Regions from separate parts of the Homo sapiens genome. Here region 1 is linked to region 2. Evidence: fine-mapped expression QTL. Tissue or cell type: esophagus mucosa. Region 2 holds a variant in brackets; the other region holds the start of a gene. All regions are shown on one strand. Distances are between the middles of the regions.

The links. PIP is the estimated chance that this variant, and not a neighbour inherited with it, causes the effect.
Region 1: SPATA19 starts here. The variant in region 2 is the best candidate, but not a certain one, in a credible set for the expression of SPATA19 in esophagus mucosa (GTEx, PIP 0.81).

Annotation. Positions count from the first base shown.
Region 1 is chr11:133,843,702-133,847,718 of GRCh38, reverse strand. SPATA19 (spermatogenesis associated 19) reads left to right here and starts at 2,206. Exons shown (of 7, transcript NM_174927.3): 1 at 2,206-2,350; 2 at 2,529-2,585; 3 at 3,079-3,210; 4 at 3,382-3,473. The coding sequence starts at 2,273.
Region 2 is chr11:133,901,349-133,905,365 of GRCh38, reverse strand. It overlaps IGSF9B (immunoglobulin superfamily member 9B), which reads left to right. Exons shown (of 20, transcript NM_001277285.4): 20 at 1-4,017. Among named protein-coding and RNA genes, the nearest start is that of MIR4697, 4.8 kb to the right of the region's middle. The variant G/T (reference allele first, on the strand shown) is at 2,357.

The DNA.
Region 1 (4,017 bases), 58 kb after region 2:
GGCACTTCACAAAAAAGAATATCCAAAGTGACCAATAGGCAAATAAAAACATGCATGATGCCACTGATAATCGGTTAAATGAAAATTAAAGTATTATTAGTTACCACTACATCTCTACTAGATTGGCTAAATTTAAAGGAGCGACAATACTAAGTGTTGGAAAAAACGTGGAGTAACTGTCACTTTCATACATTGCTTATGGGCAGTAGATTAATACAACCCCTTTGCAGTACTGTTTGGTGTATATGAATGCTACACATATCTAAAGTCTATGACCTAGCAACTCTAATCCTTGGTATATACTCAGAAGATTTAGTGCTTATGTCAACCAAAAGATAGGTACAGTATAAAAATTTTCATAGCAGCATGATTTTAAACAGCATCAAATCAAATATAATACAAATGTCCTACTAAAAATGTTTTCTATCTTGATCTGGGCAGTGGTTAAACAAGTAAGTGTGTGTGTGTGTGTGTGTGTGTGTGTATGTGTGTGTGTGTAAAAATTTTTCTCCGCTGTATGCATATTTGTACATTTTACTGTATGCATTTTATAACATTGTAATCAAAAAGCAAATAGATTTATGTATGAGCTTCATTTTGACAACATAAGCACAGGATATGTCGTCGAGAAACTAATGAAAATTTTACTTCTGAAGTGAGTTAGAACAAGGTTGAAGGTATGGGGAAGAGATGGAACGTCCTTGAATGTATCTGTTCATGTTTTGATTTCTGAATCACATTAATATTTTAAATATTCAAAAATAAAATTACATCAATAAGGATGAAAACATAAATTTTAGGGGATAGCTGTAGAAACAGAGATGTTGACAGGTAATTTCATCTGCTATTTTACAATTTCCAGTCTTCCTTGGAATTAGGTAGGGGCCATAGGACTAGTTCTAGATCAAAAGCTCTAAGTAGGAGCCTCTGAGCTGAAAGGTGGAACACTGACCTGATTCCTCTCTGTGCTCTCTTCCCTGCTTTGGCAGTCATGGAGGTCGTGTCCTCTGAATGTGGACCTGTGAGTCTCCACATGGCACACAATTGCTCTGAAATTACCCAACTTGCACGAGAGCTTTTGAGAGTGAGAAATAAACATTTTGATTTGGAGGTTGGTTTGTTGCCTCAGTCCTCAGCAGAGCCTAGCCGATTCTGACTATGTCAGGGATGATATAAAATTGAGGCGAATTGTTGAGAGGGAAGACGTGTAGTGGCTGTATCAGGGGAATTGGAGAAAGTGATAAAAGGTTTTCTATAATCCTGAGAAGAATAAACGTGGGAAAATTTTTGGAATATTAGAGTTAGAAGAAAGCTAGGGACACAACTCTATCCCTTTCAGTATAAGACAAAGAAACTCAGACCAGAGGGACTAATGATTAGGTCAAGAGCACATGACAAGTTGTTGCGGGACAGGTTGTTACTGGTGGAGGGTGTTCAGGTTCTTGGCGTCTTAAACAAAGAAATGGACAAAACACACAAACGAAGGAAAGAATGAAGTAACAAAGGCAGAGATTTAACGAAAATAAAAGTACACTCCACAGGATGGGAGCAGACTGGTTACAGAATTTTCTGGGGTTTAAATACCCTCTAGGGGTTTCCCATTGGTTACTTGGTATATACCCTATGTAAATGAAGTAGTGGCTCATGATCAGTCTGATTGGTTGCGGAAAGTGACCAATCAGAGGCTGAAGTGAAGTTATAAAGTTATATCTCTATGCAAATGAAGACCTGGCCCACAACCAGCCTGATTGTGGGAGGGGAGCAATCAGAGATACTTTCAGTTTTTCATCTGCCATGCAGAAAAGGAGAGGGTTGCAAAGGGCGTAGCCTCTGGTCTTTTTGTTACTTGGGCACGGAAAGTTGGGGTTTTCCTTTTGATTTAGTTCTAGGAAGTCAGTGTAAATCGGCCTTAGGTTTCCTGGCTCCAGACCCCATCCTCCTGCCTGGAGGTGAGCTCCCAAATTAGTGCTTTCCCAAGAAAAGAATTCAAGGGTCAGCCAATGGTGTTAGACAGCAATCTTTTATTCAATGGTTCTGCTCCTTGAAGCAGGGTAACTCATAGGAGTGCACCCAGAGCCTGAAATGCAGGGGCTCTTGGCAACGGCATTTATACTCACATACATCATTTTCAAAGGGAGGCCATTGTCACATCACCATGGGTCAGCCAATCAGGTGGACACCTCCCTTCAATGACCTTCCTGTCCCATAGGAGTTCTCAGGCAGCTTCAATGGAAGGAGGGAGCCAAGAAGGGGGCCTGGTATACATTCAAAGATGATAATTACGACATGGATTGTGTATATTCTTGCTCGGAAAGGTGTAGGGCTTCCCTTCCTACCAATAACCAGTTCGGTAAGCAGCTTGGTGGTAGTCACATGGAATAATTTTTCATATATCTTCTCCCCCTGTGGGACCCTGCTGCACTTCATAGAGATCTTACAAATAAATTTGAGTAACAGTTGCGGGGGCTGGGTGGGAAGAGCTGAATTTCTAGGTTTTCTGAGGTCACCAACTTGCCAATTTGTTCCAGGACATTGACGTTGTGGAAAGTGAGGCTGTGTCTGTACTACATCATTGGTTGAAAAAAGTGAGTAAGATTTCTTTATGACTCAGGATATCCAAAATGCTAGAGAAGTGGTCTCAGTGGGTGTGGGGATCTGGACTTCCTTCTTCATGGAACTGGAACTCAAGTTCATTGCCAGACACCCTTCCTAGATTTGAGTCTAATTTCTTCACATGTGCTGGAGGACACTGTGGCTTGTGTCCTGGCAGGAAATGTGTTAGCACCACCACTAACGCCGTCCTGCTTCTCAAGCATCCTGGCTTAAGGGTTTCAGCTGCATCCTTCCCAGCTCAAGGGTGTCTCAGGAACACCTTGGGATAGGGCCAGGGACTTAGGGAGTTCTGAGGACTTTACAGGGAAGTAGCTTATTGTGGGAACAGTGAGGTAAGGAGTGTATGTGTGTGAATATGTGGTGTGTGAGTTGTGATGGAGAATGAATAAAAGGAAAGGAAGAGGAGAAGAAGACCCAGGGTTGGATGCAGAGTGACATTTTCAGAGGGAATTTCTCACCTTTCAGACAGAAGAAGAGGCTTCTCGGGGCATAAAGGAAAAGCTGTCCATCAACCACCCTTCCCAGGGTGTAAGGGAGAAGATGTCCACTGACTCCCCTCCCACCCATGGCCAGGACATCCACGTGACCAGAGATGTGGTAAATGAGAGTTTGAGACCTTGCCTGGGAGTAGCGGTGAGGGAGAGGGGAGAGGTGGGAGGTGCACCGTAAATGATTCTGGGCAAGGGTGAGGTGCTCGTCTGGGCTCTGTGCCAGCCCAGTTGGGGGCCACACTGGGCAGGAATCACATGGACCCTCTGGATTTCCCAGGTGAAGCACCACCTCTCTAAGTCTGATTTGTTGGCAAACCAGAGCCAAGAGGTCCTAGAGGAGAGAACACGAATCCAGTTCATAAGATGGAGGTAAGGTGTCCCACTTGCCCTGGGCGAAGGAAGGGGAGGGAGAGATGCGCAAGCCCCTCTCTTCACGAACCCTCAGATGCTCTTCTCTAGAGATGTCGTCTTTGGCTGACAAATTCCTCAGCCTTGCTTTGGGGTCTTAAGGGAATATCCTTGCTATCTTGAAAGCCCAGCTCATTTCTACATTTTTAAATGACTTGAGGGGTTGGAAAACTGGGCTTGCACTCCATTTCTTAAATGCTTCTGAATACATTTCAGATTTCTGTTATTTTTGCACTTGAGTTGCTCAGAAGTGGCTGCACTTTAAAGAGCTAAAAGAAAATAAGCTCTTAAAATGCAAAAGCCAAAGTTTTCATCTGCAACTGAGGTGTGGGGAGGCTTCCCAGCGCCCGAGGCTAGAATTCTGCACTCGGTTATGGTGGCTTCGCCAGCGTCCCGGGTGCCTGCCAGCTCACAGCCGTCCCCACTGCCTCTCGTGGCTCTGCAGATGCTGAGCCCCGAGGCCCAGGGAGCTGGCCTGAAGCCATCATGCTTCAGACAGAGGCTT
Region 2 (4,017 bases):
TCACGGAGCCTCCAGCATCTTTGGCACTGCCCACGATCTGAATCTCCAGGGCTGAAGACTGCGTGGCTGGAATCTGTTTCTTCCTATTTTGTTAGCAAAAGCCTTTTCCAGGCTTGGGGGTGGGGTGGGGGAAGAATTGTACATAAAGTACATTTTATTAATCTGTAGAGAAACCTAGGAAAAGAAAAGCTAATGGTTAATCTTGGGCTTGCTTTGCTTGCATGTAAAGGAGCTTTGGGGGCACTGCAGGGATGGCTGGGGAGCTGCAGGAAGGGGCAGAGGGTGGAGCTGAGCGGGTCATGGAAGGCTCTGTTGAGTCCAGCCTCTGTGGTACTCTAGGAGCTGTGCACATTCCCACCGGGGCTTCTAACCCAGCCCTGCCTGGGTATCTTCTTCATATAAAGTGGATCTAGTAGGCAGTGTGTAGAGCCCCATGTGGCTGTGTGTGTTGCTTTAGGGAGAGGGCCAAAGAGGTGCCTTATTGGCCAGCTCTAGATTGACTAGGGTAATGGATGGGGCACTGGTGTTTCAGGAGGGGGAGTTGGAGAACTGGAGGGTGGAGGGGAGGCCTGTGTGCTTTGCCAGGTGTTGGTGAGGCTGGAAGGGGCACAGAGGGTGAGGTCAGGCATGGGTTAGGATGGTGAGACCACCCCAGGGGACACCAAGCCTCAGCATCTCTTTGAGTCATGTGATAACTTAGTTACTTGTAAGGGTGCAGGGTACACACTGGGGGATCATCCCAAGATGACGAAGAATGATTGCCTGGTGGGCATCTGGCTGGGGAGTGGTAGCCATGCAGGGCATGTGGGAGGGGGATCTGGGCATCAGGGACGGATTGTGGGGTGGGGTCCTGCATGTGAACGCAGACTGGATCTTGGGAGAGGTCTTGCTTCTTAGCTAGATCTTCCTTGCTTCTTCTAGAATTAGCCTCTAACACTAAGTGCCCAAACCAAACATGGACATCTTCTTTATATTGTATTTCAACTTCATTTGTTTTGGGGGCTCCTCAGGCCCAAAGCTGAGAAACTTGTCTTGAGATGCCCATCCTATCACCAGCTCTTCATCAGTGGAGAAGGAAGTGCCATTCTCATTTTCCTAAGCTGCAGCGGTGGGTTGCCTCTCCGTCCACAATCTGAAAATGTTCATGGGCCTTGGTGATGGTGATGGTGATAGAGAGGGGGAGCTGGAGCCTGACGTGCCTTCATCCCCCTTTCCTCTTGAGGTAGAGAGGCTTCCTTCCGGCCATGAAGTTGCACAGTGGCTTCGTGAGGCCTTCTCTTTACTTTCTCTTCTTTTGATAGGCTAAAGTCACTAGTCTGTGGTGGAGGTGGGAGGGCAAAAGAGTTTCACCTGAAACTCTTGGCTTGACCAGCCATTCTTCTCTCTTTAATGTCTCCAGCTCTGCTTCTTTTTAGATTAAGAGGCAGAATGAAAAATCTCTTCTTTAGAAGAAGTCAGTAAACCAAGGATCAAAGCCCAGATTGGACTTTCGCACTCTTACCAGCTTGCTGTTTGGCTAGGGGTACCAATCACCACCCTTCCCTCTGACTGCGAGTGAATCCACACTGGTTCAGAGCCTTATTTCTGGGTTCCTGTCTGTACTCTCAAAACCTTCTTTCAGGAGCAAGTATAATAACCCCACCAGATGTTCTGTGTGTTGGGTTGCCGAGAAGGTGGAAGTTTTTTTCAACCTCATTTTAAGCTGTTAGAAAAACACTCAGTAGATTGAATTTGGTCCAAAGACACCACCATCCCCTGAGGGATCCCATGTAGGATAAGGATAAATGAAGCATCCATACAGGGGTCATTAATGGCTGCTCACATCTTAGAGAAGGAAGAGTCTGGGTATCTTGGTTGCCATATACTCTGGTGGAACAGTGGCCAGTCATTAAAATCACATGGGTGTTGTCTTCTGCGGTGTAGAAGACAGTAGTAGTAGTTAGGGTTTCGGACGAGAGCTGGTGAAAAGCTACCGGCTTTGGAGCCCTGGCTGGGAGAGCTAGATTGGACAGTTTTAACCCCGTGGCTCAAATGCTCAGCTCCTGTCACTGGTCCTTGGTTGTCACCATTCCCATCACACTAGATGGGGACGTGAATGGCTGCCTGGGCCTGCCTTTCTTTCGGGTCTTGAAGAAGTGTGCTCCACCAATCCTACCTCTCTGTGGCACTGGATTTCCTGGATTTATTTTGCGAACTAGGGCAGGTTCTCCCTCGCCACCCCGTATACACACCAGTTAGCTTCCCTTCCCTTTTCCTTTCCCCACTTCTGTATGGCTCCAGGGATCGTGAACATGTGCGTGGTTTACGATGGGGAGGTGGTGGGAGGGGCAGGGAATCTCGGAGGGCAGGGGGTTGG[G/T]CTGGGGAGGTGACTTGCATTTTCGGCCTTAGAAATGCTGCGGGCATGCACGTGTGGGGTTTTCATATAAGCCATGGGAGGGGCGAGTGCCCAGCCCTCCTCACGCTGGTGGTAGAACCCAGGGCTTTGGCCTCCTTTTGGCATAGTGGTCTATGAAGCTGTATTTCTGGTGGAGGGATGAGCCTCCTCACGGTCATCTTGCAGTTCTTGAAAGGGTAGTTGTCAGCCACTCTATCAATGAGGTTTTATATGGCCTCCCATGAACAACGAGAGGTGTGCCATGGCCGACGGTGTCCTGGCAGGGCTGGAGAAGGGATTGTCTCATGTGTCCTTCTGCAGGCACCAGGTTGTCCCCCTGGTCTCTAACCCCCAGCCAGCTGTCTAGTCCAGTGTTTCTTTTCTGGATTCAGGAAGTAAGTGGGGTGTGTGTGTGTGTGTGTGGGGTGTGTGTGTGTATGTGGTGTGTGTGGTATATGTGTGTGGTGTGCATGTCTGTGTGTGGTGTGCATGTCTGGTGTGTGTGTGTGTTGTGTGTGGTGTGTGTATCTGTGTGTGGTGTGTCTGGGTGGTGTGTGTGGTGTGGTGTGTGTATTGTGTGTGGTATGTGTTGTGCGTATTGTGTGGTGTGTTGTGTGTGGTGTGTCTATTGTGTGGTTGTGTATGTGTGTGGGGTGTGTGTGGTATGGTGTGTGTGTATCTGTGGTGTGCGTGTATGTGTGATGTGTCTGGTGTGTGTGTGTGTGATGCAGTGTGTGTGGTGTGTTGAGTGTGGTTTGGTGTGTGTATGTTGCGTGTGGTGTATGCTTGTGGTGTGTCTGGTGTGTTTGGTGTGTGTGTGTTTGGTGTGTGTGGTGTGTCTGGTGTGTTTGGTGTGGTACATGGACTGTGTGTGGTGTGTGTGTGTGCTATGTGTTTTGTGTATTGTATGTGGTGTGTTATTGTGTGTGGTATGTGTGTATTGTGTGTGGGTGTGGTGTGTGGTATGGTGTGTGTATGTCTGGTGTGTGTGTGTGTGTGATGTGTCTGGTGTGCATGTGTGTGATGCGGTGTGCATGTGTGTGATGTGTGTGTGTGTTGTGTGGTTTGGTGTGTGTTGTGTGTGGTGTGTTGTGTGTGTGTTGTGTGTGTGTGTGGTGCGTGTGTGGTGCGTGTGTGGTGCGTGTGTGGTGTGTGTGTGTTTGTGTGTGTGGTGTGGTGTGTCTGTTGTGTGTGGTGTGTGTGAGAGAGATTTGTACAGACATGCTGATTTGCCTGCGTAGTGTCAGGCCCAGGAGACCCTCCTTTGTTTGGCTCTTTTGCTAGACAACTTCTGTTTGGGTAGGAGGGTCAAATTAGTAATGCACCATCTTTAATGTATTTTTTATGGAGACTGTACATAAAATTATATAAATCTACAGAATTGGTTCTATTTTAAGGAGAGAGGGGAATGTATGTGGGAGGCAAGGATCAGATGCAATCGTGGAGACTGGGAGCTTCGGGCGAGTGGCACTCGGGTGTGGGGAGCGGGAGGGCAAGAGATGAGTGCCGGGCAAGATGGGCAGGGGCCCGTGCCCTCTGCACACATATATAAATATAAAGAACACCTAGATAAAGTCTATATATCTCTATATCTATATGAAGTCATAGTTTGCTTTATTTTTGTACCTGTGCTTAGAGATGTT